7 linked regions of the Homo sapiens genome follow. The protein of the gene in region 1 purifies or fractionates together with the protein of each later gene. This does not show direct contact. Each region holds a gene or a part of one and is shown in the gene's direction. Other genes may lie near its edges. The genes, in order: MCOLN2, POTEF, MGAT1, TTC28, STX16, UTRN and UFSP2.

The links.
Region 2: the proteins of MCOLN2 (region 1) and POTEF purify together in Homo sapiens (affinity purification with mass spectrometry; one large-scale study listed by BioGRID and IntAct). This does not show direct contact.
Region 3: the proteins of MCOLN2 (region 1) and MGAT1 purify together in Homo sapiens (affinity purification with mass spectrometry; one large-scale study listed by BioGRID and IntAct). This does not show direct contact.
Region 4: the proteins of MCOLN2 (region 1) and TTC28 purify together in Homo sapiens (affinity purification with mass spectrometry; one large-scale study listed by BioGRID and IntAct). This does not show direct contact.
Region 5: the proteins of MCOLN2 (region 1) and STX16 purify together in Homo sapiens (affinity purification with mass spectrometry; one large-scale study listed by BioGRID and IntAct). This does not show direct contact.
Region 6: the proteins of MCOLN2 (region 1) and UTRN purify together in Homo sapiens (affinity purification with mass spectrometry; one large-scale study listed by BioGRID and IntAct). This does not show direct contact.
Region 7: the proteins of MCOLN2 (region 1) and UFSP2 purify together in Homo sapiens (affinity purification with mass spectrometry; one large-scale study listed by BioGRID and IntAct). This does not show direct contact.

The regions. Positions count from the first base shown.
Region 1 is NC_000001.11:84,994,314-84,998,260, reverse strand, and holds the start of MCOLN2 (mucolipin-2), read left to right. Parts: upstream 1-1,147; 5' UTR 1,148-1,388; coding exon 1,389-1,465; intron 1,466-3,947. UniProt on the Homo sapiens protein: Nonselective cation channel probably playing a role in the regulation of membrane trafficking events. Acts as a Ca(2+)-permeable cation channel with inwardly rectifying activity.
Region 2 is NC_000002.12:130,108,723-130,112,222, reverse strand, and holds part of POTEF (POTE ankyrin domain family member F), read left to right. Parts: intron 1-121; coding exon 122-228; intron 229-1,542; coding exon 1,543-1,680; intron 1,681-1,865; exon of another isoform or gene 1,866-2,936; intron 2,937-3,500.
Region 3 is NC_000005.10:180,792,807-180,796,306, reverse strand, and holds part of MGAT1 (alpha-1,3-mannosyl-glycoprotein 2-beta-N-acetylglucosaminyltransferase), read left to right. Parts: intron 1-431; exon of another isoform or gene 432-1,426; intron 1,427-1,940; exon of another isoform or gene 1,941-2,040; intron 2,041-3,209; 5' UTR 3,210-3,335; coding exon 3,336-3,500. UniProt on the Homo sapiens protein: Initiates complex N-linked carbohydrate formation. Essential for the conversion of high-mannose to hybrid and complex N-glycans.
Region 4 is NC_000022.11:27,977,514-27,980,677, reverse strand, and holds the end of TTC28 (tetratricopeptide repeat protein 28), read left to right. Parts: 3' UTR 1-2,664; downstream 2,665-3,164. UniProt on the Homo sapiens protein: During mitosis, may be involved in the condensation of spindle midzone microtubules, leading to the formation of midbody.
Region 5 is NC_000020.11:58,661,283-58,664,782, forward strand, and holds part of STX16 (syntaxin-16), read left to right. Parts: intron 1-3,500. UniProt on the Homo sapiens protein: SNARE involved in vesicular transport from the late endosomes to the trans-Golgi network.
Region 6 is NC_000006.12:144,459,835-144,463,334, forward strand, and holds part of UTRN (utrophin), read left to right. Parts: intron 1-1,362; coding exon 1,363-1,508; intron 1,509-2,819; coding exon 2,820-3,032; intron 3,033-3,500.
Region 7 is NC_000004.12:185,412,465-185,415,964, reverse strand, and holds part of UFSP2 (ufm1-specific protease 2), read left to right. Parts: intron 1-97; coding exon 98-255; intron 256-617; coding exon 618-810; intron 811-2,092; coding exon 2,093-2,239; intron 2,240-3,500. UniProt on the Homo sapiens protein: Thiol-dependent isopeptidase that specifically cleaves UFM1, a ubiquitin-like modifier protein, from conjugated proteins, such as CD274/PD-L1, CYB5R3, DDRGK1, MRE11, RPL26/uL24, TRIP4 and RPL26/uL24.

The DNA.
Region 1 (3,947 bases):
CTTTCATCCCGACGCGGGCGCAGGGCAACTCGCTTTTCCTATTCCTTGCGCGCCGGTCGCACTTTCTAACATCTCAGAAATATGGCCCTTGTCACAGACTTTCATGATCGTGCACTTTAGAGAAAAGCCAGAATGAATGAACTTGTCAGTTTAATGTGAAGTCCTCAAGGGAAAGGACCATGTCTTTGTCATCCCAGAGACCACAGTACCCAACGGTCGGCTTGGCTCTCAGTGAGTGTTTCCCTAAGCATCAAAACAGGAATGACCAAAGCAACGGACAAATTAATGCATGTGGAAACAAGAAATGAATGCATGAGAGAGTGAAGAAAAGAAGGGGCCAGGCGCAGCGGCTTACACCTGTAATCCTAGCACTTTGGGAGGCGGAGGCAGGAGAATCGCTTGGGTCCAGGAGTTCAAGACTGCAGTCAGCAGTGATCGCAGGTCAGGCGACAGAGTGAGACCCGGTCTCACCACCACCCCCCCGAAAAAGGCAGGAACCCCAGAGGGCCGGGAGTGCCAGGTGCGGCCGCCCGGGAGCGGTGTGGAGGGTGCGTGGGCCACTTTGCCGCAGGGCCCACCGCCCGGGTCCCTCTGTAAGGCGCTTCTCCGGCAGACACCCCGAGCCAAAGCGGGCCGTACCGCAGCGTTGGGCACTTGGGTGGAGAGTGCAAGGGCGGCGGGCCTGCGCCCAGACAGGTGTAGCCGTCCCACGCTAGGTGTCCTCCTGCCGCTCCCTGGCCGCGCCATGCCTCGAGGCATGGAGGTGCTGGACCTGCCGGTGTGCAACCGCGCCTCGGGCCTGTCCTGGGGGCCGCACCACAGGTCAGTGCCCCACGGCGCCCTTGGCGTGCCCCACGCCTCCCTGGGGGCCCCACCGCCGCCCCCTTTTGGGACTGCTTACTTCCTCGGCTCTTCTCGCGCGCGCCTCGGTTCCATCCCCTACGGCCCCCACCCCGCCTCCGCGTCGCCGACCCCCTTCTCCGGGAGCGCGGGGAGGCTGGTCCGCTGAAGCGTGGAATAAGTCCCCTAGGACCCCAACTGGGGAAGCTCCGGTCCCCGGTAGGAGGCGGCGGGGCGGGGCGGGGCGGGGCAGCCCCTTGGGGGCGGGGCGGGAGCGCCTGGCCACGCGCCGCATCCTGCAGGGTGCACACAGAGCCGCCTTTCAGCCGCCCGAGAACTGCCCGCCGCACTCCACGACTGCGGCGCCTGCTCTCGGGCCGGGGTCTGCGCGCACCACGCGGCCGGCAGAAAGGGTAAGAGAAGGGAACCCCGCTTTGCAGGGCTCCAACTTCGGCGGACGCGTTACGGCGAGGGCGAAATGAGTCGGCCGTGAACGGTGTTTCCTGTTCCGAATCCCGAGAGCCCTGGAAAGTTTTGAAGGAGGAGGCATGGCCCGGCAGCCTTATCGTTTTCCCCAGGCAAGGATTCCGGAGAGAGGATCAGGTGTTTTCAGGTTAACCGTCAGGTGAGGAGTCTGGGCTTCATCTTTCAGGATGCTGGACTGGAGAAATCTTCCTAAAGTCGATGGCTTTACTTTCGTAGACTAGAGCTTGCTTGCTGCCTTGGGAATGCTTATATTAACTGCTTGCAGTTAGTTAAATAAGGCTAGGCTGTGCCTTCCAGAACAAACAGGCCTTTCCCTCAGGTGGGAGGGTTGTAGTGTGGCTAACCCCAGTTCCTCGGCCTTTATGAAAAGGCGCACAGTTCAGCCGGTTGGCGCTGCCAGCGGGCCCCTCCTCCGTGGTCAAACCTCCAGCCACCCCAGCACAGTTGAGCCAAAGTTGTGAGTACAAACAGACCTTGGCTCCCCCGTTTCCTGCTCTCCAAACATATATATATATATATATATATATATATATATATATATGAAATATATACGTATGTGTAAGTGTGTGTGTCTCTGGTTGAACGGTACTTGTGGGAAACAAAATTGTGTGTCATTGTAAACTGAGAATGGAAGAAAAGGTTAGTAAGAGAAAGGTGGGAGAGGTTTCTTATGGGTGTCAGGATGTAGACTCTGATATTTTATGTAGAGGGAACCAACTACGTAGTTCTCCCCAGAAATGGGATGTGGGTTTCACTCTCAGGAGCTGCTCATCACCTTTGTGATGTGCTAACCAAAATCGCACAACTTTTGGGAAATTTGATAGCTTTCCCCTATTGAGTCAGAAGTTTCTTGAGACTTTAGCCTGTCTTCCTCTTCATACCTTAAGAGGAGTCAAACTCCCGTTGCCGTGAACTTTCCACAGGCACACCCTTCTCCTTTAGAAAACCGTTCATAGGTCAGTTTCTGTGGCCGGAACTCTAAAAACGACACATTTTCCATACAGAGGCCATCATAATACCAATTTTATTTAACCTCCTGTAATAAAAAATGAGTGAATCCTAATAAAGTGTTTGAGGTAGCCACATTCTTTTCTGTGAAGGAGGAACATATCAAAAGTGTTTTTTTTTAAAAAAATAGAGTAATAGATATAAAATATTTTAATGAAGCAAGTGAGAAGAACTGAGAGACATAGTTTGAGCAAAGGGGCACGAAATACAGAACTGAAAGTCAAGAATGATCATATTCACAAGCTGATCTCTTTGGCTATGTCTCTGTCAGTGAAGTGAAACCTAGAACAAGACAATTTTAAAACCGGCGGAAAAAGAGATGGCTTCTTGTGACTATAGCTTTCAAAGTAAAAGTAGTGGCCAAAGAAAACTCTTCTGGCTGTAAAAGTAAAAGTGGACTTTCCTGAAGCTGGGCTGTTTTCTTTAAGGCCTAGGGTCTAAGTTCCGTGTGTCAGTTCTGAAGAATTAAATCACTCTTTAGTGAGCTCTTGTGTCACATGTTAAGGGGTTCATAGAAAAAAGTGCAGGCATACCTTGTTTTATTGTTCTTTGCTTTATTGCACTTTGTAGATACTGCATTTAATTCAATTTTATTTTATTTTACAAATTGAAGGTTTGTGGCAACCCTGTGTCCAGCAAGTCTATTGGTGCCATTTTTCCAACAGCATGTGCTCACTTTGTGTCTCTATGTCACATTGTGGCAATTCTCTCAATATTTCAAACTTTTTCATCATTATTATTATATCTGTTATGGTGATCTGTGACCACTGATCTTTGATGTGACTACTGTAATTGTTTTGGGGTGCCATGAACTGTGCCCATATAAGACAGGGAACTCAATTAATAAATGTTGTATGTGTTCTGACTACTCCACCGACCAGCCATTCTTCTATCTCTTTTCCTCTCCCCAACCCTCTCTATTCCCTGAGACACCACAATATTGAAATTAGCCCAACTAATAACCCTACAGTGGTCTCTAAGTGTTTGAGTGCAAGGGACAATCACAGGTCTCTTACTTTAAAGGTAGGAGTGATTAAGCTTAGTGAGGAAGGTATGTTGAAAGCTGAGACAGACCAAAAGCTAGGCATTTTGTGCCATTTAGCCAAGTTTTGAATGCATATGAGATGTTCTTGAAGGAAATTATAAGTGCTACTCCAGTGAAAATACAAATGATAAGGAAGCAAAACAGCCTTATTGCTGTTATGGAGAAAGTTTTTGTGGTCTGGATAGAAGATCAAACCAGCACCAACATTCACTAAAGCTAAAGCATAATCTAGAGCAGGCCCAAACTCTCTTCAATTCTGTGAAGGCTGAGAGAGGTAATGAAGCTGCAGAAGAAAAGTTTCAAGCTAGCAGAGGTTGGTTCATGAGCTTTAAGAAAGGAAGCCATCTCTATAACATGTAAGTGCAAGGCGAAGCAGAAAGTGCTGATATAGAAGCTGCAGCAAGTTAGTTGGAAGATGTAGCTAAGATCATTGATGAAGGAGGCTACTCTAAACAACAGATTTTCAATGTAGACAAAACAGCCTTCTATTGGCAGGAGATGCCATCTAGGACTTTCCTAGTAGAGAGGACAAGCCAGCATCTGATTTCAAAGGTGCAAAGGACAGGAT
Region 2 (3,500 bases), on another chromosome or scaffold:
ACTACATTTTATTTACTTCTATGCGTGTAAGTCCATAAGATCTTATATAAAGTTTCCACTTCGGTTGAGGAATATGTACTTTTTTGAATTACATAGGTTTTTGCTTTATATTGTTTTACAGCATGGCCTCACACCACTGTTACTTGGTGTACATGAGCAAAAACAGCAAGTCGTGAAATTTTTAATTAAGAAAAAAGCGAATTTAAATGCACTGGATAGATATGGAAGGTATAGTTCTTTCTTTTAATCTGTGTGTTGTAGATGGACAGCAGTCACTCAAGTCATAAATATTAAATTAATAAGATTAATGTATACTTACTGGGATGTAGTGATCAGTATCAACACAAATCAGTTAGGTAGAAAAACAATTACTTGGGCTGGGCAACATAAAGAACAGTTTTAGTAGGATTCATCTTCTCTTATTATATTGACTGATGTTATTTGTTATGTGACATTTTTGGTTACATGATCTTATGTTAGCTTAAAGGATTTCATATTAATTTTATGAAGTTTGAACTTTAACTTTTAGTTTACTTTATGACTCAGTATTGAACTTCTTAACCCTTTCTAATAGTTTTTAACCTGTGTCTTACATGCTTTTCCATTAAATATGCTGTATTAAACATAAATAGGGGTTGAAAATCCTTTTGTCTTTTTAATGACTTTGCTTTAAGTTGCTTTCTTTGAAGAATATTAGTGTTAGCTTATCCCTACATAACAATTAATTGCTGTTCCCACATACTGTGGGTTCAACAGCTTTTTTCCTTTTGTTTTTCCAGTGTATTTTGATGTTTTTATTTTTAATTGGTATGGAGAGAGGGAGTGAAGATAGTTTTAAGTGGATACACTTTTCCTTTAATGAAGACAAGCCGTACGTGGGTGATAAAGAGAAAAGAGCTAGGCTTTGGATTCACACAAGACTGGGTTTAATTAGTAACTTTCTTACTTGCTAGGTGTGTGACCTTGGGGACGTTATTTACCACCAAATATGTTGTCATATATGAAAAGTAGGAGAATATATCCTTCAAAGTTGGCTGTGCATAAGTAAGAAAGATATATGTGGCATTTAATTCAGTGCCTAGCACATGGTTATTGGCACCATTAACTGAAACTCCTATGACTACTATTCTTACCATTATTATTACTGCTTTGAGCATGCAGAGAGCTCTTATTTCTCTTACCCCCTAGCTGATTTTCTATTACAGCATGTCAGTCTAGGGAAGCTGTGACAAAATCTTCACTTAAATCTTTGTCCACCTCAGATAAGTGGCCCTAACATTGTTTCTTGCCCATCAAAGGACTTTAAATTAGTAGCTTCTGCTATGCAATACCCCACTGAGATAAGAGGGTTTTTTTTGGTCCCTTCCTTTTAACCTTGGTGGCATTTTACAAAGATGAACACTTGAGCACTCAGGTTGCTTATGTCTTTTAGTGCATGTAAATGTTTGATTCTGCACAGACAGGCAAGATGTTACATTGGTAAAGTATATCAAATTAGCTTTAAAAATAACTTTATTACAGTTCCTATCTCTGTCATTTTAGAACTGCTCTCATACTTGCTGTATGTTGTGGATCAGCAAGTATAGTCAGCCTTCTACTTGAGCAAAATATTGATGTATCTTCTCAAGATCTATCTGGACAGACGGCCAGAGAGTATGCTGTTTCTAGTCATCATCATGTGTAAGTGTTTACATTAAAAGGCTAGTTAATGCTGAATTGAGGTTTAAAATAATTATAACAGTTGCATCTCACATATCAGGTGAGATGTCATAGTTTGGTTCAGGTAGTTTTCGCGTGGCAGTGAGTTTTAGTCCCCTGCATCAGCCAGAAATCAGACAAAAAGCAAGACAAGTTAGAAGTACCAATGGGTGCGGGATTCTTTATCTCAGGACTTTTAAGATCTTTATCCTTAGAGATCCCAGCATTGTTCATTTGATCCAAGTGTAACACCTATGCAGGGATAAAAAATAGTGTCACATCTTTAATTTTTCTGATTAGTTATTTGGGTCTTGAAATGTCCAGTTTAGCGGAAAGTCTTGTACTGTCTTCTGGGGACTATGTCCTACATACTCCTTGAATTTTTCAAGAACCGAAGGAGTTCACTAAATCCAAGGAAGACAGTCCCTTTTATCAAGTCAGAAGGAGGAGGAAAAAAGACATTGCAATCATTCTGTTGTTTCCGTTGATTCTGTTGCTGCTTTGTGGCCACTCAAACTGGTCCTGCTGCCTTAAGATGAATCAGTAGATTCAGATCCCTCAAGTCTTCATGGCGATTCATACAGTGACTTTGATGTTTTTTAATTCCCATACCTATGCTTATATGCTCAGCCATTGTTCCCAGAGCACCAGCCCCCTGCTCTGGCCGCTGGGCATCCTGACTTTATCCGCACACAAAGTGACCAAATTGACCCTTCCCCGCATATTCAGAACCTAATGTGGAACCCACATCTTAGCCAGGAATTAGCTGAGACCTTCATGGTAAGAGATCCTTTGAGGCTGTTGTTGGTCTTTTCTCTGGCAGATGTTAGGTGGGCTTGTTCTAAAGGGTGAGAGGGGTTCAAATAATGTGGCAGAAGGAGGTCAGTGTCTGTTTCCTCTTTGCTACCAGATCTGTACTGTGAGGCACCTTTATATCCTGTATAGAACCTTGGGCAGTAGAAAGTCCCGTATGAACCTTGCCCTGAGCAGTGGCTCCCAGCTGTGGTTGGCCCCTTGAGTGATCTGATTTACATGATAATGAAAATTATCGGAGCTACTTCCATCTCTAGCTCAAGATTTTAAGATATTTTCAAACTCTAGCTCACAGGAAGCCATTGAAGAGAATTCTCAGAATCTCAAGTAGGTTAGTTGGACTTCACAGAGCCAAGCCTTGTCCATGACGCATCACTAATCATATGTAAAAGTAGGGCTTTGTGCTTGCTTCGGCGGCACATATCCTAAAATTGGAACAATACGGGGAAAGTTAGCGTGGCTTCTGCATAAGGAGGCAGGACAGATCTTTGAAGCATTCCATATTTTGTGCAGTCACTGGAAGGTCATTTGACTATTTTTGCTGACTAGCTCTGAGGAAATAGTGTGAATCAAAGCAAAATGGGTGCCACCCAAATATTGAAATTGTGATTTGTGCTGCAAAAATAGTCATGTAAGATGGTCTATGAGATGACTTTGAGCTGAATAACATGTTCCGTGCAAAATATATTGTTAGTATGTATGTCGAAAATTACAGAATGTCAGCTTGCTACTTCTCCGTGGAAACTAAAAAAAAAATAAAAGTAGACTTTTGGTCTCCCATGTCAGCTGGAATTGAACATCAATATAAAGCATTATCCTAACAGACATCTACTGGCTGAGAGTTTGAGTCGGTAGAGAAGGATCGTTGGTCCAAGTCAGGTCTTAACATCCATTGGTTTTTCTGCCCTTGGTGTGATTGATCAACTCCGTAATAGTGGACAATCACATTATCTACTTTAATGAGATATTTATGAATAAATTTAGTTATA
Region 3 (3,500 bases), on another chromosome or scaffold:
TAGGAAGAAGACAAGTGGTTGGTGGTGAATGCTGGCAGGGGCTGGTGAAGTCTCCCCAGGAGGGAGACAGAATCCATGTCTCTTTAGAGGCCCTTCAGGATCAGCCCTTTTATACCAGATCTGCTGGTTTGAGAGCCCAGAGCCTCAGAGGTTAGATCTGAGGCCCAAGGTTTTGGCCAGGATTAGAGAGTAGCCTGTGAGGCAGAGGGCAACTGGCAGAGCTGTTGGTGTAAGAGGGTGCACGCCTGAAGCTTTGGGGTGTAAAGGGTAGACCAGAGGCAGGACAGTCAAGGAGTTATGGTCTGGAGTGGCAGCTGGCTGGGAATTGGGGAGTGTTTCAGATCCTTTCAAGTAATGTGGTCTGGTAGAGCTTGGAGGATTGGTGGGACCATGCCTTTTTCTCACTGGTTTGTGTCCTGGTTCCTTCCCAGAGCCTGGCAGAGAGCAGGTGTGTGATACACGTCGTCAGGTGACTGACCGAGGAATTCAGGGCAAACAGATCATCTCAATTTGCCTTGCTGATGTGCCAGCTGGGATTACGCTGATGGATGAAGCTCTTCAGAGCTATGGGCAATATCTACATATTTGATTGTCAAGAAACTTCGTGTGGAAATAGCTTCAAACTTACACAAATTGCAAGAATAAAAAATAGTATAAGGATATTCGTACACACTCTCTTTACTCAGATTCACCTGTTAATATTTTGCTCCATTTGCTCTCTATGTGTGCAGAGTATGTTTTTGTTCTGAACCATTTGAGAAGTTGCATCTATCCTGGTCCTCTACTTCTCAATACTTCAGTGTGTATTACCTAAGAATTGGAATTAATCAGTTATCACTGATACTTTAACCTACTGTCCATATTCCACCTTTGTCATTTTACCCAATAACGTCTTTTTAAAAAAAGTTTTTTGAGGTTTCATTGACATACAATTGATATCAATATGTGCAAAGAACTGCATATAAAGTGTACAATTTGATAAGTTTTGACATATATGTGTGTGTGTGTATATATATATATATATATATACCTGTAAAAGTATCACCACAATCAAGATAATAAACATATCCACCCTTCTAGAAGCTTCCTAATGCCCCTGTGTAGTAACTACCCTACTGCCCTTCTCTGCCTCCATCCCCAGGCAACAACTGATCTGCTTTCTGTAATATAGATTAGTTTCTATTTTCGGCAGTTTTATGTCAATGGAATCACAGTGTATGTGCTCTTTTTTGTTTTTCCCAAAAAGACCCATATTGTGTAATTATTTGGAGATTGTGTTGTGTATGTCAGTGGTTTATTCAGTTTTATTGCTGAATATTATTCCATTCTATGAGTAAACCACAATTTGTTTATCTGTATTTCCCTGTTGATGGGCCTTTGGGTTATTTCCAGTTTTGAGTGATTATGAATAAAGTTACCATCAACACTCCTGTGTAGGTTTTTGTAGGGACATGGCTGAAAGTAGAAAGAAATGGGGCATGCAGGAGAGACTGGGCTTGGTTATAACAGCCTGTTATCCCTGGGGAACTAGCTCACTCACCAGAGGACGTTAGGAAGGATCTGCCCCTGCCCCCCTTGTGATCCAAACACCTACCACTAGACCCCACCTCCGGCAGCACCACCACACAGGGGATCAAATCCCAACATGTGTTTCAGAGAACAAACCATATTCAAGCTATAGCATAGCTACGTAATTATTATAACACTATTAATAAGACCATCTTTGCCTTGGGAATTTTAAGTAGCACCTTTATTACATATTAGATTTTTTTGTGTAATGAGTCTGTTTCTGGAGCTTAAATTCTATTTCACTGGATGGTCTGTTTATTTATGTACCAGTACCACGCAGTTGTAATTATGGAGGTTTTGTAGTATGCCATATATATATATATATAATAAAAAAAAATTTTTTTGAGACAGAGTCTCACTCTCTTGCCCAGGCTGGAGTGCAATGGCACAATCCAATCACAGCTCACTACAGCCTCAGCCTCCCAGACTCAGGTGATCCCATCTCAGCCTCCTGAGTAGCTGGGACCACAGGTGCGTGCCACCATGCCCAGCTTTTTTTTTTTTTTTTTTTAATTGTTACTTGTAGAGACAGGGTCTCCGTGTGCTGCCCAGGCTATTCTTGAACTCCTGGGCTCAAGTGATCCTCCTGTATTGGCCTCCCAAAGTGCTGGGATTGCAGGTAGGAGCTACTGCATCTGGCCAGTATGCAGTATTTTCATATCTGGTAGGGCTGAGTCCCTCCTCACAGCTTATTTTTATTGTTTTCCTAGTTTTTCATGTGAACTTTACTGTCAGTTCGTCTAGCTCCATAAAAAGGTATTTTTATTGGGATTTTTGATGATGCTGAAATGTCCTGACCAAGAACAAGGGATATTCAGATGTTCTTTTGTGTCTTTCAGGAATGATAGTTTTGTTCACATAAGTTTTGAATGTTTAAGTTTATTTAAGTTTATTTCTAAATATTTTCTCATTTCTCTGGCTTTTGTAAGTAGGGTTTTCTCATCCATGTTTTCTTCTCATGAGTTATTTGTGGATATGAAGGCTATCCATTAGTATATGTTGATTTTTATATTACACTTCCTTGCTCAGTTCATTATTGATTCTTTTTGAGTTTTCCAGGCATATTCTCACAAGTAAAGATAATAGAAATAGTTTGCTTCCTTTCCACTTCTGCTTTGAATTTTTTTTTCTTGGTTCATTTGCATTGGCTGCTTCCTCCAGCAAAATGTTAAATAACCCTGGAGATGATGGGCAACTTCGTTTTGCTCCTGACATTCGTGGGGTGCCTCTGGTGCTTCCCTGTTGGTAAGGGGTTAACTGTAGCCCTGAGGTGGGACATTTGATTTTAAAAATCAGTCATCTTGGGGCGCTTAGGTTAGAGGAATGGTAGGCAGATGCTGTCACTCCTTGCCCCTCCCCTCCTCCTTCCCACCTGGAGGGGAAATGAAATCTGACAGGTAGAAAGAGGGGAGTTGGGGTTCTTTTTCTCTCTCCCTCCACCAGCATCACTCTCTGCCTCTCCCTCAAAAATACGTTCCTGGGTCAGGATATATGTTGACTCCCTAGAGAGCTCTGGAGTCAACCTCCTGGCCTTCCTCCACCCTCACTCTTGGCCTTTTCCTGCCCCCATTTCCTCTACCTGTGGGGCATGGAGCCACGAGCCTTTGTGTGACGGTTTGCTTTCTCTCTCCTGTCTTTAGGTGCATGGCTGCCTCCTAATCCCATAGTCCAGAGGAGGCATCCCTAGGACTGCGGGCAAGGGAGCCGGGCAAGCCCAGGGCAGCCTTGAACCGTCCCCTGGCCTGCCCTCCCCGGTGGGGGCCAGGATGCTGAAGAAGCAGTCTGCAGGGCTTGTGCTGTGGGGCGCTATCCTCTTTGTGGCCTGGAATGCCCTGCTGCTCCTCTTCTTCTGGACGCGCCCAGCACCTGGCAGGCCACCCTCAGTCAGCGCTCTCGATGGCGACCCCGCCAGCCTCACCCGGGAAGTGATT
Region 4 (3,164 bases), on another chromosome or scaffold:
ACAGGGTTCCTCATGAAGGTGGGCGGCCACCTGGCCTGGGCCACCAGCAGCACATGGAGCAGACCTGAGGGGCCTGGCAGGGGGCACTGACCTCAGGATCCCCAGGTGGGGGTTTTAACCATGGGTGGGATCTCAGCTTCTGCGCATACACTGACAATCTCACCTGTTCCTCAGTGTACTCCTCTGAAAAGAAGAAAGGATAATATTTATCCAATCTGTGTTCTCCTGAGCTCCATCCTAGGGGTTTTTAATTTAACCAACAGCCATGTTGACAAAAGCCAACAATAAGCATGTCTTATTCTAGCCCTGATCCCAACACTGAAAGCGAAGTACTTTATAAAGAAGCCAGCAATTATGAGGGTTTCTTTATGTTAGTAGGGGAAAAAATGGTAATAAAAGTACCAGTGTAGCAAGTGAAGACCAAATTTATAGCACTGTGCATTAGATAGCAAAATCAGGTTCTTAACAATGAAAAGTAAACCTCAAGTTTCTAAATCCATATGCAGATGGTTAGGCTGTCCCTCTCTTAGCAAATCTCTCAGCCTCCTTCTTTCCCAAGTGCCAAGGATCCCTGGAGTAAAGCTCTGGGGTCTGTGCTCTCTTTCTGTGAGGGGAAGGCTGCGGCCCTATTTGCCCCTCTCTAGCAAACACCCCCACCACCCTGCCGCTTCCTGTGGTTATTGAGCCAGCTAGGAGTTACTCATGGACTCTAACCTGGTTTTAGTCCCATGTACATCGTTGTTTTAGGTTTCATACTGAAGAGCCAATGGTTTATGTGGTTTTATTCTGTCTTAAATATAAGTTTCAAGGAAGGGAAAACAAAAGTGATAAAATGATAGAACAGTCTAGAGGCCACTGTAAAGTCACCGCCACTTTACGTGTATGTCAGTCTTGGTGTTCTTGTATGAGTAAAATGGATGTAAAATCATAAAATCACAGTGAATGTTTCAGGCTACACTGGAAAAAGTATGCACTTAGAATTAAAGGAAATTGTATAATTCACCAAGATTTCTTTGTGTAGATCAGGGGTTGGCAACTATGACCCACAGGCTAAGACTGGTCAGCGGTCTGGTTTTTCACAGCCATGAGCTAAGTTACCTTTTTAAAGGGTTATATAAGTAATTACATCATATTTTTGATTTTGCCTTTGGCCCACACCACATAAAATATTCAATACCTGGCCTTTTTTTTTTTTTTTGAGACAGAGTCTCGCTCTGTCACCCAGGATAGAGTGCACTGGTGCGATTTTGGCTCACTGCAACCTCTTCCTCCTGGGTTCAAGCAATTCTCCCTGCCTCAGCCTCTAAGTAGCTGGGACTACAGGCACCCACTACCATGCCTTGCTAATTTTTGTATTTTTAATAGAGATGGGGTTTCACCATGTTGGCCAGGCTGGTCTCGAACTCCTGACCTCAGGGGATCCGCCCGCCTTGGCCTCCCAAACTGCTGGGATTACAGGTGAGCCACTGCGCCCAGCCAATACCTGGCCTTTTAAGAAGTTTGCTGACTCCTGGTATGGATGACAGAAAATGGAATAACGTTTTGTTTCTCCAGTCTAGGAAAAGCAAGTCAGGTAGTGGATAGACTGACTGGCGTCCGGGGAGCCCAGGGTATGTGAGGGCCACGTGGATGGAAGCAAATGCCTCCTGCATAGCCCTTGGCTCTTTGTCCCACTTGGGAGGAGTCCATGGATGTAATATTTACAAAACAATTTTTTCCTTACCATTTGCAGAAAGCATTGCATATATTTCCTTTTAGCTCAGGAAACTGGCATGCCCCACCCTCTGCTACTCCATCAGATGTAAATACAATGACTATAAGCCGTACAACTCCCCTCTCTTAGAAACCTCAGCAGGACCACAGAGCAAGGGAGTCAAAGCTTTCTTAATTCTCTCCAGTAAATGACTCAACTAATTTGATTTTTTTAATTAAGTCAAAATATCAAGAGAAAAATTGCTACTAAAACTTACATTTTGATCCACACTGATGTGCAACACAAAATGAAAGTTTTCACCTCCATTCCATTTTTTAAAAATTCACGGTCCACACTGAAACTTGCTGGGTTTTAGCAGGAGACAAAGGTGTCACCCACGCTGTCCTCATCCTGCTCTCTCTGTCCCAGTGACGCTCCAGCATATGATCACTGCAGCCGGTCCCTGGCCCGTGCCGATTCTGCCACCTCCCAGCCACACACATTTGCAGACCCACAAGAAGAACTGTAGCCTTGATAATTTCAGTTCAGGCTGGAAAAATGCCATGCAATAATCTGGTTTGCTTTCAGTAAGTAGGCAACAAGTGAAAACTGTATAATTTTCATCACCTATTCTGCTGTTCTATCTAAAATGAGTGTACCTGTGGTTTGTGAACTGGGCCCTTGTTTGTGCCAGATCCTTCAAAGATGTTCCCTGTCAGGACACCTGTGGCCCTGCCCCTCCTCAGACACCTTCCCACTGGCATTCACGTTCCTTATATGCAGTGTTAGCCATCTTTGGCCTACGTGGACTTTTTTTGTAAATTACACCATTTCCAGACATTAAACTTTTTATATTATGAAATTTACCATGTAAAAAGAACTTCATATTTTTATTGAGATTGCTAAGGCACTTGGCCTTCCTCCTTTGTGATTTTCAGTGTCTATTAAAGCATGAGTTCCCTCAGTTTTAAGTGCTGTATCTGGATCACTTTCTCTACTCTTTCCACACTGTCTAGGTTTCTTTGCAGTACATGGAGTGGGCCGTGTGTCATTACTGAGCACGTATCTCTCTAGTTTTAACCCCACCTCTACACCATAGCCTCACATCCGCCAAGCAGAGAGCACGACCATGCATGCAGCAGAGCTGTCCCGCACGTCTCTGGTCTGGGGGCACTGTCGGTGGGGGGGTAATTTAGACGCTACTCATAGTTGGAGGGCCAGAAAGTTCGACAGTTGAATACGTATTTCGACAAACAGAAACAGAGTTCATCACCACCAGATCCCTATATCATCTAACAAAACTTCCAAGGTAGTATTTCAGAAAGAAGGAAGATAATTCTATATGCAAAAGTGTGAGAAGCATGAAGGAATAGTAAAGAATTGGGTAAATATGCATAAATGAACACAAATATTGCCTTTATAAAAAGAGTAATGTTTCATTCGGCTAACAAAAAATACTAGACAATAATAT
Region 5 (3,500 bases), on another chromosome or scaffold:
TGAACCGATTTCCAGTCTTTCCTACTTCCTTTTTCAGGCAGCAAGTTCCAGAAACTGGCTACTCACTGCATGAACTTGGCAGGCCCTTTTGCTTTTCTTATGTTTCACCTCTAAGGGCTTAAAAGGGAGTCTTCACGCTCTGTGATCAGAGGCCCTGCGTAGAGAGCACTATCTCCTCCACGCTCACCCCAGTGCTATTAGAAATGCAGGTTGCTGCCTCATCGTGGGTGCCCACGGCCACCTCATTTCCTTGTGCGTTTCACTTGCCTCTTTTGCTCTTTTGTGCAGTGCCGTTATCTTTTTCATGAAGTGTGGCTTCCACAATTGTCTGTGACGTACATTTTATTTACCTCGTGCATTCATTCCACTCGTTTCTTGTCGGATCACTCAGCTGGTTGTGATTGTGCGTTCAGGACTCTGAAGTGCCAGGTACTGGCCTAGGAGCAGGGGGTGTGGTTGGGGACAGTGTCCAGAGGCTTCTTTGAAGCTGACGCAGGGCCTCACATTGGCATCTCTGGAAATAGTGAACACCCAGCTCCAGAGTGGATTAGATGTTAGCCACCCCTTTATAGGGGAGGCCTGAGCAAATGTCCCTGAGTGAATATCACTTGCATCTCCCAGAGTAAAGGCATCTGACGGCCTCACTTCAGAGGCTTCCTGCAGTCTGTCCATGTTTGATTGTCATTCTCCTCCTCTAGCCTGAGTACCCTGGAGATGTCACTTTTCCTTCTCAGAAAACACTAAGTAAGGTGTTCCCTGAGGAGGACCCGAGCCCACCATTGGTTCTCTTACCCAGGGAAGTGTCTGGCCCTCTCCTTTGTTCTCTGTCTTTAATCTACTTCCTGTCTTATGACAAAGAAATCTCTGGGAGTTTTTAAACTCAAGAATTATTTTAAAAGTCACAAGATAACAAATGTCAAGCCCCCAAACCACACTGCCTGGAGGACTGCACATCTGGGAGTGCCTGGGCCGGGCCCCAGTGTCCATGTTGGTGAAATAGGGAGCGGCGCTCCTCTGAAGGATTGTTCTTGGGACTGGCATGGGCCAGGTCAGTAGCAGTGCTCAGTACAGTGCTCACAGAAGGCAGGGAGGGACGGATTGCTCCCCTCCTTTTTCTTCCCCTCAGAGTATGTATGTTAGTTGAGAAAAAAGGAAAATCAGTGAAACTTAACAACAGTATCAGGGTGATGTGATTCTCAAGTGTTTTTATCTCTATATTTTTTGTATCATTTATTTTTATTTTTTTGAGACAGAGTCTCACTCTGTTGCCCAGGCTAGAGTGCAGTGGCGCGATCTCGGCTCACTGCAACCTCTGCCTCCCCAGTTCAAGCGATTCTCCTGCCTCAGCCTCCTGAGTAGCTGGGACTACAGGTGCGTGCCACCATGCGTGGCTATTTTATTTATTTATTTATTTTTGTATTTTTTAGTAGAGACGGAGTTTTGACATGTTGCTCAGGCTGGTCTCGAACTCCTGAGCTCAAGTGATCCGCCTGCCTTGGCCTCCCAAGTGCTAGGATTACAGGCGTGAGCCACTGCGTCATCCTATGCCATTTTAAAAGTATTTATTTTGACCATTTACTAATTTCATAATTAGAAAAGGTAAGCATTATTTTAAAATTATTACGGGTTTAGAAAAATGTAGTGCTGACATCACTTTTTTCTTTTATCCACATGCTTATTCACTTCTCCAACAACTCGGATTTCTTAAGCCTAATTGTCTATTAGCGAAGTAGTCTGACTTCATCATACAGGCTCCCAGAGTTTCACGTGGAAGTGTGAGTTGCCAGTCTGTTGATTTTCAGTGTCCCTTCTGGGCTTTCCAAGTGTTCATTGCCATAGACAGTCCAGAATTATCGGTATTGTTCTCATTACCAATGCGTTACGGCTAAACTTAGTTGATTTTTTTAGATGGGGAGGAGGTGTAGCTGACTTTTCCAATCTCCACAGAGGCTTTGCTATTTCTGTAATCTTAGTCTACACTAAATCAGCCTTCAGGGAAAGGCAGGGTTTTTAAGAGTAGGAGGGCCATAGATTTGGAACAGCAAGATTTATAAGAGAGAATGTGTATGTTCTTTCCATAGATGGAGAACTTGTCCATACTGGCTGGTACTCTTTAAATGGACAAATGTCAACATTTGAAGTGGATCAAAGGCAAAAGATACCTTTAGTGAGACTGGCAGGAAAGCCATTGGGTGTGCTGTTTTGAACATCTGTTGGATTTTTTCTGCATTTCTCTCAGGAAGGATGGCTCTAGGTTAGGGTAGCGGACCCCAGTAGTTCTTGGAGAGAGGAACTACATATCAAAGAGGCAAGAATTCTTAATTCTCTTAAGTACAATTTTTATTTAAAAAATATGGATTTTTTTTTTTTTACTTCAGAAGCACAAATTTATTTATTTATTTATGTATTGAGATGGAGTCTCGCTCTGTCTTAATAAAAGGCTGGAGCACATTGGCACGATCTTGGCTCACTGCAACTTCTGCCTTCCGGGTTCAAGTGATTCTCCTGCCTCAGCTTCCCGAGTAGCTGGGATTACAGGTGCATGCCACCATGCCCGGCTAATTTTTGTATTTTCAGTAGAGACGGGGTTTCACCGTGCTGGCTAGGCTGGTCTTGAACTCCCGACCTCAGGCAATCCGCCTGCCTCAGCCTCCCAAAGTGCTGGGATTACCGGCGTGAGCCACCATGGCCAGCTGCACAAACCAACATCATATATTTGGAGGGGGCACCATGTTGAAATTCAGTAAGGGTAAGGAGAGAGAATTAGAAACCTGGCCATTTTTTAAGATCTGTATGAAATAGGATGGCAGCTTGAAAATTGATACATATGCTGGATCTTCAACAATAAGAAGACATGTTTTTAAATGGAAAGTGAGGTTTCTGAAATTAAAAGGGTGCTTATGTTGCACATAAAATTTGTTTATGTCCATATTTGTTCCCATTTCAAATAGTTGACGCTTATCTTCAACAATTGTTTTCCCTTCCCAAAACATACTGTCTTGTTTTTTAATAGTACATACTGTGATACACATTACAAATCCATACTGCTAAAAGAAATGACACATTTCTTCTCAATAGGGTGGTGTTTCTTTATTATAATGAACTATAGCTATAGACTGTATCATAAAAGAGACAAATTATTCGCTATTTAAAGTTTTCATTCCCAAAGAATCAGCTGTTCTATCTTACTGGCAAAACTCTGATACAATGTGTGGGAAAGCTAGTACCAGCTGAGCAGGCTGGCATCCATGCTGTTCATGTAGGAATCTCTAATTAGCAAGCTTCCTTAGGACCCTTAACAAAGAGTGTGTTCTCCCCACTTTTGATTTACATCTAATTTGAGGGGAACACATGCATAAAATCAAGTACTGCTTCAAAGAGTTGTATTCACTTCAACCGACTTTTCATATGTGGTTTATAATTTGTTGTTTTGGATAAAATGATACTAATCCCAATGCAGGTAAATTTAGATAGATACCATCTCTCTGTCTTCTTTAGTT
Region 6 (3,500 bases), on another chromosome or scaffold:
CCACCTCAGCCTCCCAAAATAACAGGTGTAAGCCATTATAACAGGTGATATAACAGCCTCCCAAAATAACAGGTGTTAGGCAAAATAACAGATGTTAGCCTCCCAAAATACCAGGGATAACAGGTGTCAGCCATTGTACCTGACCTGGATATAATGATTTTTAAAGATTTTTTTTTTTTTTTTTTTTGAGAAACAGGTGCAATTTCTTCCTTTGGTTGAGGAGGCCACTTAATATCATTGCTAGGAGGATCAAAATGAATGATCCCTTACTTCTGTTTCCTCAAAATAGTTAAAGTTTTGGCAGTCTCATACTGTCTTTTAAAAGAAATCATATTCCACTGTCAGATTCAGAAAAATTTTAGAGTTCTTACTTTTGGAATACACTTGGTTTTGGAAGGTTCACTGTTAAAGATTTTGAAAGCTCATCCCTCCTACGTTACACTATTTACTTCCTAGCTGCCATTTGAGTTAGGAACTGTGTTGCATTGTGCATTATTTTGTGAAATGCATTGAGCATTGTGTGAAATGCTCCACATGTAACCCAGCCTAACTTCAGCAATTGTAGATTGTGTGATGACTGGAAGTGTCTGTATGTGTGCATGCTAGGCAAATGTGTCGTATTGCCTTTCTTCTGAAAGTGCATCTGGACAGCATGTCTTTGTTCCTTGAATTCAGTTATGTGAAATATGTCTTTGAGGGTACCTCTTTCTCCACTTATTGGTACAAGCTGTGCTTTCACTTTTGACAAGGATCAGTAGGCAGTTTAACTTTTGCTGCTAGTTGGTTTCACCTCTTTGTGCTTCAAGAGAACTCACTTCCTTTCCACGCAAGTGTTACTTCTGTGATATTTTTACATTAGTGACTGAGGTAGACACTGTTCCAGCTGGCTGTTCAGTCATTATTTCTCAGGGTACCTGGGCAGCATGGTGGCAGTATTTCCATATAATCTCCTCCACTCTGGACCTGGGTTTGTCTACACGGTGGAGCTTACAGCAAGACTGGTTGAAGGGATCTTTGTTTTCTTTTATTCTTTGTGTAGCTGTTAAGGAAGAGGAGATTATATGGAACAAAAGGGACATTGTTGTTCCATCTTCAGAGAGACATTTCATCATGAAGAAATGAAGAAAAATTATAGTGGGTTAGTTAATATTTCAAACGTCAACATCCGCAGGAATGAAGTCACTGTCTGACTCTCAGAAATGCCAATGGAATGATCTATGTTGTTAATTAACAGAGACCCTTTTACATTTTAATCATGGGGTCTCCTTTGCCATGTATTGGAATTCATTTAGGATAATGGTCTATGTAATAATATTGGTTCCTAATATGATTTTTTCAAACTAAATATTTTTAAATAAACAGAACTGAAGGGCCAACCTGGACATGCATATCTGGAAACATTGAAAACACTGAAAGATGTGCTAAATGATTCAGAAAATAAGGCCCAGGTGTCTCTGAATGTCCTTAATGATCTTGCCAAGGTGGAGAAGGCCCTGCAAGAAAAAAAGGTAACATATATCTTCCATGTTAGAACTCTAGCGCTTCTTCTAATATCTCCTCTTACATATTTTGAAATGTTTTTTCAGAGATTAAAAAAAAAGTTGGTCAGTTTTGTTCATCATTGGTGCAAAAATGTGTTTATGATTTGAGGGTTAGTTTGACCTCACATAAAAGAAAGTACAGTTATTAAAAATTTTTTCATAGAAGAAAAGCATATTTTCTCCTTCTGCTGTGATTAGCTTAAAATTCTCAACCTGTTCATAAAATCTGCTAAAATATCTTTATGAAATGAGGACTATCAGTTGACGTGTTGATGTATACTTTTTTCTGCATCGAATAGGAATGTTTCCGAGGTCATTTAGTTGAGTAGCCTTATGGCTCTGTGCTATTAGATGAAAAGGAGAGCAGCCATTGAGCACTGCACACTTGGCCCACACTGGGTTTGCTGTTCCCTTGGTTTTTAGGGTTGAGAATACACTGTATTGCCCACACACAACTCATGAAGAAAAAGCTTTAATTTTTATGATTATGCCTATTTTTTTCATGAGTTTTTCATGTTTTGTTTTGTTTTGTTTTTTGATTTCCAACTTTTATTTTAAGTTCAGGGGTACTTGTGCAGGATGTGCAGGTTTGTTAAATGGGTAAACGTGTGTCATGGTAGTTTGCTGCACTACGTATTAAGCCCAGCATCCATTAGCTCTTCTTCCTGATGCTTTCCCTCCCACCATGCCCCACCCTCCAACAGACCCCAGTGTGTGTTTTTCCCCACCATGTGTCCGTATGTTCTCATTATTCAGCTCCCACTTATAAGTGAGAATATGCGGTATTTTTTTTTGTTGTTTCTGAATTAGTTTGCCGAGGATAATGGCTTCCAGCTCCATCCATATACCTGCAAAGGACATGATCTTGTTCCTTTTTATGGCTGCATAGTATTCCATGGTTGATATGTACCACATTTTCTTTAAGTAGTCTATCATTGATGGGCATTTGGGTTGATTCCTTGTCCTTGCTATTGTGAATTGTGCTGCAATGAACATAGTGTGCATATATCTTTATAACAGAATGATTTGTATTCCTTTGGGTATATACCCAGTGAGATTGCTGGGTCAAATGGCATTTCTGGTTTTAGGTCTTTGAGGAATCACCACACTGTCTTCCACAGTGGTTGAACTAATTCACACTCCCACCCACTGTTCTTTTTAGATAAAAATGCTTTCTAATGCATTTTAAAGTGACTTTTGACTTTATATAGCCCATTTTACTATATCTGTGCAGACACATTTTTGTGCATATTTTTAATCTTTTAAAACTTTTTCCAGACCCTTGATGAAATCCTTGAGAATCAGAAACCTGCATTACATAAACTTGCAGAAGAAACAAAGGCTCTGGAGAAAAATGTTCATCCTGATGTAGAAAAATTATATAAGCAAGAATTTGATGATGTGCAAGGAAAGTGGAACAAGCTAAAGGTCTTGGTTTCCAAAGATCTACATTTGCTTGAGGAAATTGCTCTCACACTCAGAGCTTTTGAGGTAAATCCAGAGGCCACTGGGAGTTTAAGTTTATTACGGGGTAAATAGTAATTATCTTATAAGATTCACGTATTTATTATTTAAATATTTTACATTCTTTCTAGATCCCCATTTATTATGTATTTAAGTTGGGACTTATCAAAGATGTACTTTTAATGTGCTAGAGAGCACATTTATTTCCTTTTGCCTGGAAGCAAAGTCAAAAGTAGAGTAAACTGGACCTTGAAGATAAGAGAAAATTGCTTAAAAATGGTCAAAATAATGTTTCAGGCATGGAGGGCCTGTGTGAAATACAGACTGTTGATTAGATTATAGTAGTAACTTGGTTGGGGTGGTAGAAATAGCCCAGGTAGTAGTAAATTGCTGAATACATGAAACTACTTTTTGCAGGTTTTTGACATTTGAAGTCAAAAGTCAGAGATAGGCCATTGACAGTGTCAGAGTGGGAAGGCAAATCGTTCCAGGGAC
Region 7 (3,500 bases), on another chromosome or scaffold:
CTTAATAATAAATACATTTTTGAAAAGTCTTTTTACTTACTCTTTATATTTAGTGTTTAATGCACTACAAGTTGACTATTACTGTTTATCTATATAGCATCAAATAGTAAATATAGATCTTATGCTGGAAATGTCAACCTCCCTGGCAGCTGTAACGCCCATCATTGAAAGGGAAAGCGGAGGACACCATTATGTTAATATGACTTTACCTGTCGATGCAGTTATATCTGTTGCTCCAGAAGAAACATGGGGAAAGTAAGTATTTTTATAGTACCACTGCCACATTTGAATGAGGGCCCTTCCCCAAACCCATGTTTGTATATCCTGTAGGTATACCTAAGGTGTGATTTTCTCCTTGTTTATTATTAACCTAAGAGCCATCTATTAATTAAATGGTTATTTGGAGGAAGTAGGGTAGCATGCTAAAACCTGGAGGATTTCCCTTTATCCACAAAGAGCAAATACACAGTTTCTTTTATAATGTATAATTCAGACTTCCTTTAGCAAACCTGGTCCAATCAAGTTTTTTACTATACTAAGGATATATTAGCTCTGTACTTTTCTTTATTGTAGTCACTATAACTTTTGTTAATACACTTATATATTTCCCCCCACAGAGTTCGTAAACTCCTGGTTGATGCAATTCATAATCAACTAACTGACATGGAAAAATGTATTTTGAAATATATGAAAGGAACATCTATTGTGGTCCCTGAACCACTGCACTTTTTATTACCAGGGAAAAAAAATCTTGTAACAATTTCATATCCTTCAGGAATACCAGATGGCCAGCTGCAGGCCTATAGGAAGGTAAAACCAGTTCATCTATTCTTAGAAAAAACAATAATGACTATCATTCATTTTGTATTTAATTATATATTTCCACTAAATGGAAGGTATTTTGTGATTTAACTTAAAAGTGTGGAATTTAGACTATTCATTTTACACATTATTTAATTTCTGTTCTCATGAAACTTTAAGTAGTATTAATGACAAAATGTTATGTTGAACCTATATGTAACATTTTAATTTTAAATGCTCGGTGTGGTTCATATATTCTGTGAAATTTTAATATTTTTCCATAATGAAATATAGAAATGGTGCTTACATGCCTAAAGTTGCTGGTATTAACAGATTTCTATAACTTTCCGATTTGTGAAAGAGACAAGATTACAGTTAGGGAAGGAAAATGATAACTTATGCTAATTCTGAATAGGATTTATGGTAATACTCCACAAGTAAGGTTATTTGGGCTTTATTAGAGGAATTTTGGAGAAAACATGACCAGCATTCAAAGTAATGAGATTTACTCATGACTGGTTTTGGAGTGCATCTTTTTGATATGTGGACTCGCTTAGAACCTATCAAATTAGACCGTGGAGCATCTTCCTAATTTCTGTCCTTAGGGAGAGCGAGAATACCCTGACCCTCTGTATGTGGAGGTGACTTGGTTTGTAGAAGCAATAGCTACAGGAGCTGATCTTTTAAAACCACTGGAGTACAAGATATGATAAAGAACATGTCAAACTTTTTAAAATACCTATTACATGTTTTTATATAGTTGGGAAAATAACACATTTTAAACATATATGTGTATTTGTTTTCCTGCCATATTGGTTGGCTTTAGACCACTAACTTCTACTCTGTAGTTTAATCACTACCACTTACAATATAAAATATTTGTAAGGCACTCGACACAATTTTGCAAAATACTTTGATATAATTATTGTTAATTATAATTTACTCATTTACAAGGCTATTTCAAAACCAGTCTTTAGCCTGGATGTATTTTAACAGACTATGTTGTAATAAATAATTATTTAAAAATTAGTTCTCTTACTCTAACAATTTATATTCATTTTTCTCTGTTCCCTTCCAGTTTCTACCCAGATACAGACGTAAACGAAAATAAATCTTACTTGGTTTTAGTTCAGTTTTCACCATCTTTGATGTTAGTGAATTAAACCATAAGTGTTTGGAAACTTTTATAACCTATATATAATTTTCCATGTTTAATAACATCTTTATTTATTGACTAGGAATCTAAATCACCAACATTTTTTCTTTTTCTGTTGATTCTGATTTATTTTAGGAGTTACATGATCTTTTCAATCTGCCTCACGACAGACCCTATTTCAAAAGGTCTAATGCTTATCACTTTCCAGATGAGCCATACAAAGATGGTTACATTAGAAATCCACATACTTACCTTAATCCACCTAACATGGAGACTGGTATGGTGAGTTTAACTAATTATTTATGGGAGTCACTGGATCAGTAATGTTATTAGTTGTTTTTTGTTGGTACCCAGTAGGAGACTTGATTCATTATGTATTCATTCCTAAAACATGATTTATCACCCATCTCTGTTAACAGACATTGCTTAAGATAGCAGTAATTAAAAATGGTCTAGAAAAGTTAGTAATAGGTAGATATACCACATTTATCTTACTAAAATTCTCTTATTTCTTTAAAGGCTTGTCCCATTTTTTTTCATTCTGAACCTGAGAAATCATGCTAATTAAGGGCATAGTCTACCCAAACCACACTGTAGGATAAATCTTTTTTTGTTTTTTTGAGACAGAGTCTCGCTCTGTCACTCAGGCTGTAGTGCAATGGTGTGATCTCAGCTCACTGCAACCTCCGCCTCCTGGGTTCAAGCAATTCTCCTGCCTCAGTCTCCTGAGCAGCTGGGGTTACAGGCACCTGCCACCACACCTGGCTAATTTTTGTATTTTTAGTAGAGACAGGGTTTCACCATGTTGGCCAGTAGCTAGGGTTACAGGCACCTGCCACCACACCTGGCTAGTTTTTGTATTTTTAGTAGAGACAGGATTTCACCATGTTGGCCAGGCTGGTCGTGAACTCCTGACCTCAAGTGATCCGCCATGTAGGCCTCCCAAAGTGCTGGGATTACAGGCATGATTCACCATGCCCAGCCACTGTAGGATAAGTCTAATGAGGAACTAGACTTATTTTCCATGTAACATATACCCGGTTGCCAGGGATAGATCCTCCCTAAAGGTAGCTCAAATAAGAGTGAATTGGCGGAGGGTGGTGGAAGGGTTACTTTAAGGATACATGGAGGCCAGTGAGAAAGGACCTTATAAGGCATCCAAGATTAGGAATACCAATAGAGCTGGGCCTCTTAGAAACAGCAGCCCTGTGACTAGCAGGTGTCTTCAGTCTCTCTCAAGGACTCCGTGGATACCTTGGTGGCATTGCTATTGCTTTCTGTGTATGCTTGTGATCCTAACTGGCCTGTTCTTAACTTTTACTCTGTCTGCTCCACCTCATACCCTCTGTATCCTCACTGTTTCAGCTTGTGTGTCACTTTTTCCTGTTCTTCCTCAGCTGCCCAGTGTATGCCTCATTCCAACTGCATTTCCTGCTCCTGGCTGCCTGGCTAACTCTGCACCTCTCAGTTCAGATTCCCAAGAGAAAGAAAACTTGGCTATCGTATGGTGGCATTTATTAATACCTTCTGAGCGTCCAGGACT